2 separate regions of the Homo sapiens genome follow, and region 1 is linked to region 2. The links come from fine-mapping of genetic effects on gene expression. A gene starts in region 2. The other region holds a variant in brackets. All regions are shown on one strand. Distances are from middle to middle. Region 1 overlaps HRAT17 (heart tissue-associated transcript 17). Region 2 holds the start of HRAT17 (heart tissue-associated transcript 17).

Evidence for each region. PIP is the estimated chance that this variant, and not a neighbour inherited with it, causes the effect.
Region 1: its variant is the best candidate, but not a certain one, in a credible set for the expression of HRAT17 in left ventricle (GTEx, PIP 0.52).

Annotation. Positions count from the first base shown.
Region 1 is chr7:112,968,906-112,973,316 of GRCh38, forward strand. All of the region lies in intron 4 of HRAT17 (heart tissue-associated transcript 17), which reads right to left. Among named protein-coding and RNA genes, the nearest start is that of HRAT17, 25 kb to the right of the region's middle. The variant A/G (reference allele first, on the strand shown) is at 2,740.
Region 2 is chr7:112,993,802-112,998,212 of GRCh38, forward strand. It overlaps HRAT17 (heart tissue-associated transcript 17), which reads right to left and starts at 1,842. Exons shown (of 6, transcript NR_110162.1): 1 at 1,767-1,842.

The DNA of each region.
Region 1 (4,411 bases), 25 kb before region 2:
AAAGTATTTTGCAAAAATTTATTTCCACCTCAAGCAGAATGGACATCCATACTAAATACATATATGTTATGTAGTCAATGACCGTATTAAATAAAACAGAAAAAAAAAAACGGTGGTTATTTAAAGCATTGTTACTGTGGTTGAACTCTTTGTCTGAGAGATCCAGGATTTATACCTGTGATTGAAACACTGCAATTTTGTGAACAGTTTGGGGAAAAGGTAATAGGTTAACCAGTTCTTCAGACTTTCTGACATTTCAAGCTGTAAGTCTGACAACATAATCTAATTGGGCTATTAGCCTTATTCTAGGTTTTCGATTGAGCTGTTTTTTGACCTCTTTGCTTCTATCATGAGCAAAGACTGGGAAGAAAACAAAAAGTGAGCAGAAACTGCAAGTACTAGTTGATAGCTGAAAAGAGGGCTGAGACAGCTCCTTCAATCTCCACCAAATAGGTCTATAATGAGAACAGCAATTTTCAGAAGTGAAGGGACTGAGCCCAAGGTTGCTGTGTTAGGAGTGATGCACAGGGAGCCTGGGGTACAAGTGGGGTCTAGGAAGTGAGCCCAAGTCCCTGACAGCCAGAAATAACCTTAGTAAGGATGATTTCCCACCACAATACAGAAATACTGTAATTTGAAATAAATTTTTTATTGAAAATTCTCTCATAGGATTTCTGAGTTGTGTTGCTTATTTCCTTCCCAAATGATTGTTCCCTATTTTAGACTTGACCTAACGTAAGATATAAAATAGTTTCAGATTGGTTTCAGCTAACAGCTCATTCCAAATGATGGGTTTTTAAATGTAATTACCTTTTTCCATTTCTCCCCACTCCTAAACTCATCCTATATATTTGTGAGTAACTTAAAGGAATGTTATTTAATATTTGTGACTCTGCAAAATAATTTTACAAATAAATGATTTCTCTAGGTCTAGATCAATAGGTTCTTTACACATAAAATGTTTACAGACATGAATTAAACAAAATAAATTTGTTAAGAATAGCACACCAAGGCTAAAAATAAAACAAAATGAAATATTAGTGTACATGTGCAAGTACACTATACATATACAAAATAAACTCTAGTTATTTATAAAATTTGGAAGAAATAGACTGCTTATCCTGTAACATGGAGAAAGAAAATACACTTTGCATGATATTCTTATCTAAGACTTACGATACAGAGGATTTATTTATTTATTTATTTATTTTTTGACAGGGCCTTGCTCTGTTGCCTTGGCTGGAGTGCAGTGGCATGATCATGGCTCACTGCAGCCTCAAACTCAGGGGAACATATTTTTAAATAAGTTGTTTATTTTAGAAGTTTTCTAATATTCAGGAATTAGGTAAATTAATTTAGAAAGTTATTTGGAGAGTTGGGATTATAGATAGAGTTTTTTAAAATATAAATTCCATACCATTATTATGATTAGAATGTAAACTCTGGAAAGACATTTTTGGTTTTACTGTTTTGGCCACAGAATATAGAGTAGTTCCTAGAACAATTCTTGATGCATAACAGGCATTTGCATATAAATACATCAGTAATATTTGAGAATACATACATAAGTATGACTTTATCTGTGTGCACTTAACCTGATTCAAAGCAAAGTAGCATTTAATGTGTAGATTTTACATAAAATTAAACTCTCAGATCTTATTGTCAATTTTGTTCTTTACAGCAAATGAATTTTAACTACTTTAATCATTCTTTTATTTATAAATTAAAAGCTTTAGTATATTGTTATTAATTCAATGTAGTCATTATAATTTTCTCATTGGCTAAATATTCACAGAACACTTTCAGAATTAAAAAAAAAGACAAAGATGATGGTAATGGCTAACATGTACATGCTCCATTTATTCTATGTTGTGTATTTTTCTAAGCATTTACATGTGTTAATTCTAATCTTCTGTTATGGGATGCAACATGTCCATTAAAAAATATAGACACTCCACAATTTTCCTTGCAGCTATAAATGCCATTGTTCCTGTCCTGGCCAATGACATGTAATCAGAAGTCATTAGACTAAGAATCCAGAAAAGGCACAGACTCAGCTAGTGGACAGTGTCTGTAAGTACAGCAGCCCTCATAAGGACCTAAGGAAGGAACCCCATACTAAGGGTGATGGGGTCTAAAGATAAGCAATCTGGTACTGTCTACATGAGAAAAAATAACTCCTGTATAAACCACAGCAATCATGTTTTTGTTACATGCAAAAGAACTCTAAATTCATAACTGGTTTAGCTGATAATAGGAACATTTTCATCCATCCTTTCATTTCATAAATATGTATTGAACACTTGCTATGAGCCAGGTACTGTTCTAGGTAGTTGGGATATATCACCACACAAAACAGATAAATATCTGCTCTCAAGAAGCTTATATTGTAGAGATGGTGGGTCAACAATAAAGAAACTAATTATTTAGTTTATTAGAAGATGATGTGTTATGAGAAAGAGATGACAGAGCAGGATAAGGGAGATCAATAGTGCCAGAGAGAGGATAAAGTTGCCATTTTAAATCAGGCGGTCATGTAGCCCCATTGAAGAGATGATATTGAATACAGACTTGAAAGAGGTAAAGGATAATTGCAGATGAATGACACAACCAATGTGTATGTCTTAAGTGGCCAAGTGGCTGATATATTTGAAGAAGAACAAGGAGGCCTATGTGTTTAGGTGGAGTGAGACAGGGAAAGAGACCAGAGAGGTAATGCAGGGGATGGGATGGAGGAGT[A/G]GACCATGCAGAGCCTTGTAGGCCACTGTAAGGATCTTTGCTTTTACTCCGAAATAGGGAGCCACTATAGAGTTTTGAGCAGAAGAGAACAAATCAATGTTTGAAAATGATCTCTTTTGTTTCTGTGTTGACTACAGGGAAGAAAGGATAAAAACAAAGCAGTTTTTGGGAGGTAATTATATTAATTCAGGGTGTAGTAATTCATGAGGGTTGATACAGTTTTGCTCTGTGTCCCCACACAAATCTCACCATCAATTGTAATCCCCATAATCCCCATGTGTCAAGGGCAATTGAATCATGGTGGCGGTTCCCCTCATGCTTTTCTCATGATAATGAGTGAGTCTCGCAAGATCTGATGGTTTTATAAGCATCTGGCATTTCTCCTGCTTGCACTTCTCCTTCCTGCCTCCTTGTGAAGAAAGAGCCTTGCTCCCCCTTTGCCTTCTGCCATGATCGTAAATTTCCTGAGGGTTCCCCAGCCATGCTGAACTGTGAGTCAATGAAACCTGTTTCCTTTTTAAGTTACCCAGTCTTGGGTATGTCTTTATTAGCAGCTTGAGAACGGACTAATACAAGGATCTAGACCAGTGGTAGCACTCGGGGTAGGGAGGGAGGAGTATTCAGATTATGGATATATTTTGATGGCAGAGCCATCAGGATTTCCTAAGAGGTTTGAATGTGGGCTGTGAGAGAAAGAAGATCAAGTATGGCTTCTGGGGAAATGATGTAGGGCGTTTTTAAAAGAACTTATCTTTATAGCGCTTACAGCCAATATATTATAAAAGCTTGCTACCTTATTTGAAGCCCCAGAAAATAATGTCTCTCTGAGTCATTAAAAAATTCTAAAGATTAGAAAGTCAAAGTTAAACAACAACAACAAAAATTTCAGAAGACTTCTCAATTAATGATGACTGTGTATCTACACTTCAGGCTCCAAACAAGCTGCTTAGTTTGGACAATGTCAAGTTTTTGCAAAAATCTTCCACTTCAACAAGAGTAGATTTGACTGTCTGTGAATAATGGTTATAGGAGTTGCCTAAGGACCTTATTTTTGTCGAGTTGTAGTTTTCACAAAGGCTTATAATATTAGACATGTACAGATAAAATTAGTGTAACCCACTGAGATTTAGAGGTAGTGTACCGAAGGCTAGCACAAGATTATCTCAGAACTAGAAAAATAAGGTTAAATTTTAAGAGTTAAATTACTAAAACCTTCATGTAATTTATGAAATTATCAAATCTATGTATATTTTATTCATCAAATTTGGAAGAATAAGGCCTAGAAATATGTTTGAAATATGATTAAATGTGAAAGGAACTAGAATATAATTAATGATGTTAACATATATATGAAGACAGACTGGTTTACAAAAGAGGGAAAGGCTACAGGAGTTTGGAGAAGGGGAACATGGGTAAGAATTTTCAAGTGTTTACTTTCACATTCTGCTTACTCTGACCAGAATACATTCAAAGTCTTACAACTGCTTGCACTGGAGAACAGCTTCTGACTAGCTTGAGGTGTAAGAACTAGTTTATCTAAAATATTCCTAGCCCACTCACATGTTTCAACTAAAGAAAGACTTTACTTAGTGCCCTTGAGGAAGAAGAAGATACATGTCTTTTTGGATATTGTAGACTGTGGTGGTTAATTTTATGTGTCAACTTGACTGGG
Region 2 (4,411 bases):
TGGGCGCCTGTAGTCCCAGCTACTCAGGAGGCTGAGGCAGGAGAATGGCGTGAACCTGGAAGGCAGAGCTTGCAGTGAGTGGAGATTGCACCACTGCACTCCAGCCTGGGTGACAGAGCGAGACTCCATCTCAAAAAACAAAACAAAACAAAACACAAAACAAAACAAAACAAAACAAGAATATATGCAAATGGCCAACAAGTAAATGAAAAAATGTTCAACATCACTATCAATAAGGAAATGCAAATAAAATCCACAAAGAAATATTACCTTATGTACCTGTCAGAATGGCTATGATAAAAAATATGAAAGATAAATGTGGAGAAAAGGGAGCTCTTGTACGCTGTTGGTAGGAATGTAAATTAGTACAGCCAATATGGAAAACAGTATGGTGGTTCCTCAAAAAGTTAAAAATAGAACTACCATATGATCCAGCAATTTCACTTCTGAGTATATATCCAAAGAAAATCAAGTCAGTATGCTGAAGCAATATCTGCACTCCTATGTTCATTGCAGCATTATTCACAATAGCCAAAATATGGAATCAACCTAAATGTCCATCAGCAGATAAAGTGTTATATATATATTCTTTCTAATTTTGGCTTTATATAGATACACAATAGAATACTGTGATAAAGAATACATTGAATAGAATGTGTAGAATAATGCTACAATGTATTCATAGACTATACAATGTATTCATAGAATACGTTGTAGCATTATTCACAATAGCCAAAATATGGAATCAACCTAAATGTCCATTGGCAAATAAAGTGTTATATATATTCTTTCTAATTTTGTCCCTTTATATACATAGATACACATTAGAATACTATTCAGCCTTTAAAAAGAAGAAAATCCTGCCATTTTTGACAACGTAGATGAGCCTGGAGGACATTATGTTAAGTAAATAAGTCAGGCATAGAATTACAAATACTGTGTGATCTCACTTTTGTGTGAAGTAAAAAATGTTGAGCACACAGAAGCAGAGTAGAATGATAGTTGCCAATGTCTGTGGGGAGTGGTGGTGTGGGAATGGGGAGATATTGGCCAAAGTTAGACAGGATGAGTAAGTGCTGGAGATCTATTGTTAAGCATGATGACTATAGTCAATAATAATGTATAATTGAAAATTGCTGAGGGAATAGATAAGTTCTCACCAAAAAATGATAAGTATGCGAGGTGACGCATATGTTAATTAGCTTTATTTAGCCATTCCACAAGGTATACATAGTTCAGAACATCATGTTGTATACCATAAATATATACAATTTTATTTATCAGTTAAAAAAAGGAAAACAGAAAAAAATAAAAAATGTACTGGGAAAAAAATTTATAGCACTCCTAAACATACAGTAGGATGCCCAAAGTGCATCTTGAGCACAGTTTTTCAGTCTCAGCAGCATAATTGACATTTTGGACCAGATAAATCTTGTTGTGAGAGGCTGTTCTGTGCAATATAGGATGCTTGGCAGCAACCCTGGTCTCTACCCACTAGACGACTGTAGCATGTTTCGTTTTGATAATCAAAAATACCTGCACACATTGCTAAATGCCCCTTGAGGGGTAAAATTGCTTCTGGTTGAGACCCAGTCTAGACAAAGGTTGGGAAATTTGTTGGCTGTATCTTCAAAATATGTTCAGAATTCAACCACTCCCACCACTTCCATTTTCTCTCTTTGTCAAGCCACCATCATCTCTTGCCTGGATTATTGCAGTAGTTTCCTAATCAGACTCCTGGTATCTACTCCATTTTCTACTCTTACCTTTTCAGTGTTTTCTCCACACAGCATCCAGAGTGATTCTTTCAGAACATGCCAGTTTATGTCACTTATCTCCTCACAACTCTCCAAAGACTCTCTCTTTCTCTGAGGGTAAAATTAGTAGGTGAATTCAGGACAATGGCATGCCAGGAACTATGTGACGCATCACAACCACCAGCTGAACCAGGGATTTGTGAAGGAGCCAGAGGCATGTGGGCAGCCAATGGCCCCTGAGAAGGCTCAAAACTTTCTGGATGTTCTTTCTGAAGTCGTCTTCAGAGCCAGTTTAGTCAGGCAGGACTACTACTCTGATTCCCTATAATCAGATACTTTTTCTTCCAAATAGTCCTCTAGTTGGATCATTAATCAATTCACCAGACTACTGATGACAATTATCTCTATCCAAAAATTAAAGTCTACACTTAAAAAATTAGGATTTGCTGCCACTGGGTTCATTTGAAACAAAGCAGCAGGTTCTAAATGCAAACCTTTAAGAGGAATCCCTGAAAGTGTTTTTAATTGATGGCAAGATCAATGGACTAAAGTAGAAATTCTTAAGGCAGTTATGTTGAAGAAGATAATGTTCACTTAGATTTTTATGTTTTGGGTATTAATTAATATGAGCTTTATTATAATATTTGAAATTACTTCCTAGAGTAATTTAGTAACTTGATATTTTATAATAATAACATTTTGAAACATTTCAAGAATATGCCCTAGATATATGGAAAATAAGTCACAAATTCAACAATAAGATAGATAAGAGATGGAGAACCACAATTACAGAAGAACCAGGAGGTATTCTCCCCCAAGATCAACATGAAATAAGATCTCATGAAAACAGCAAAATAAAGGACAGTTAAAGGTGGCAGAGTTACCGAAAACCTCACTTTGATACACAAAAAGTGTCAGCAATCTGTTAGAGCACAGAAATAGTGATTGCCCCTTTCACTACAACATGGAAAGATTCCACTTGGCTTTGCTAGTTGCTTTCTGTCTCTCCATATGGGAAAAATATAACTAACTGGATAATTTTCAACCAGCAAAAAAAGGTGGAGCATAAATTCTAAAAATAAGTATGATATAAAAATGCTGAAATGCTAAAAATGTTCGATAAGTTATAAATGGGAAAACAGATAAGAAAAGACATAGTAAAAGATTTTTACAGCTATGTGAAATAGGGCAAAATTAAGCAAAAACAAACTTGAAAGTGGAATACCAGAGAACATTTTTATGGTAATGACAAATGGTAATGTTCTATTGTATAACAAGAGCCCCCATTTCATAAGAGAATTTGAATGTAAACTGGGAATACTCAGCGATGTTCTCAAAACTAGAATTCTTTTCTAGTGAGAGAGATAATTCTGTTTTTTTTCCTTCCTGACATATTACAAACTAATTTTTCAGAGTTTTGTGAAATATTGTTAATTTTTTTCTTTTACTACTTGTTTTCTGGCCATCATGCTTCTCTAGGGAGAGAATTATGATAATCTGAGAGCATGCTGTTTTATACACCCTTAGCTTTAATCCCCTTTTAGATACTTTTTACTTTTTCTCCAGGCTTTTGACTTGGGATGACTTTTTTTTTTTTTTTTTTTTTGCTGCAGAATATAGTGCCATCTTTCATAGACAGTTGCAAAAGTAAACCTCCTCTAATAACATTCTAAAAATGTGATTATTAAATAAAAAGATGCAATTTAATAAAAGCCATGGTTCATAAAGCCATTAGTTAAATAGATTCATTAATAAGAACACATTTTCCCACATGAGACACTCCGTAAGTGGTGGTTATGGTCTCCAGCTAGCCTGCCAACTTTATTTAATTTACAATGCATTTGAAACTGAATGTTCTATAAATCAGATACATTATGGGTTAATAGGGCCTTTGGGGAGACAGTGAGAGGAATAGTCAGGGAATCTGACACCCATTATAAATTATGTTTAAGGCAATTGATTTTCAAGTCAAGTCTTCGAATGCCAAGACCTCAACTATAACAAGTTCCAAGAAATTGAGAGATTGGGACAGAAAAAAAAAGGAAGAATAGGAGGTGAAATTTTCTTCCTTGAGGGCACAAGTAACTGGACACTCTCCCCAAACTCTCCTACCCAGCATGAAGGGGACTCTTCTCCCTTAGCACCAGAAAACTCACCAGGAGAGGATTCTCTCTTTCCTCTAAACTCTCCCTCAGAAATCACTGCTTAGTATTGTTAAGCAGCAATTATCTATGGGTTTCTGCACATCTTGCAAAGCAGGCACTGAGTACCCTTTGTTCTCCACCATCTTTTCAAGGATGTTTGCTAAGAGAAAATATCTGGAAGATAGAGATGTTGTCTCTTTCAAGAGAAAGGATAGGGTTGCTTATGGCTTTGGGACATAGAGATAGTATCTCCCTCTGGAGCAATAGGCAGATACTCTTACTGCCTGTTACAAAAGATTTGGATCCCCTAAGCTCAGGGTTCCACTCTTGCAACACAACCCTATGGGAATTGGGGCTCTGGTGCAATTGCAAATGTTACTGTGGCTACTGTTATTGCTCTGAGTAATGAATGGTCCTTTGTTTCTGATTCAGGAGGCTCTTCTATCAGTATCCACGGAAGTGTGTCAGGCGAACTTTTTAACCTGCAAGTGAGCTTACTGCTTTTTAATA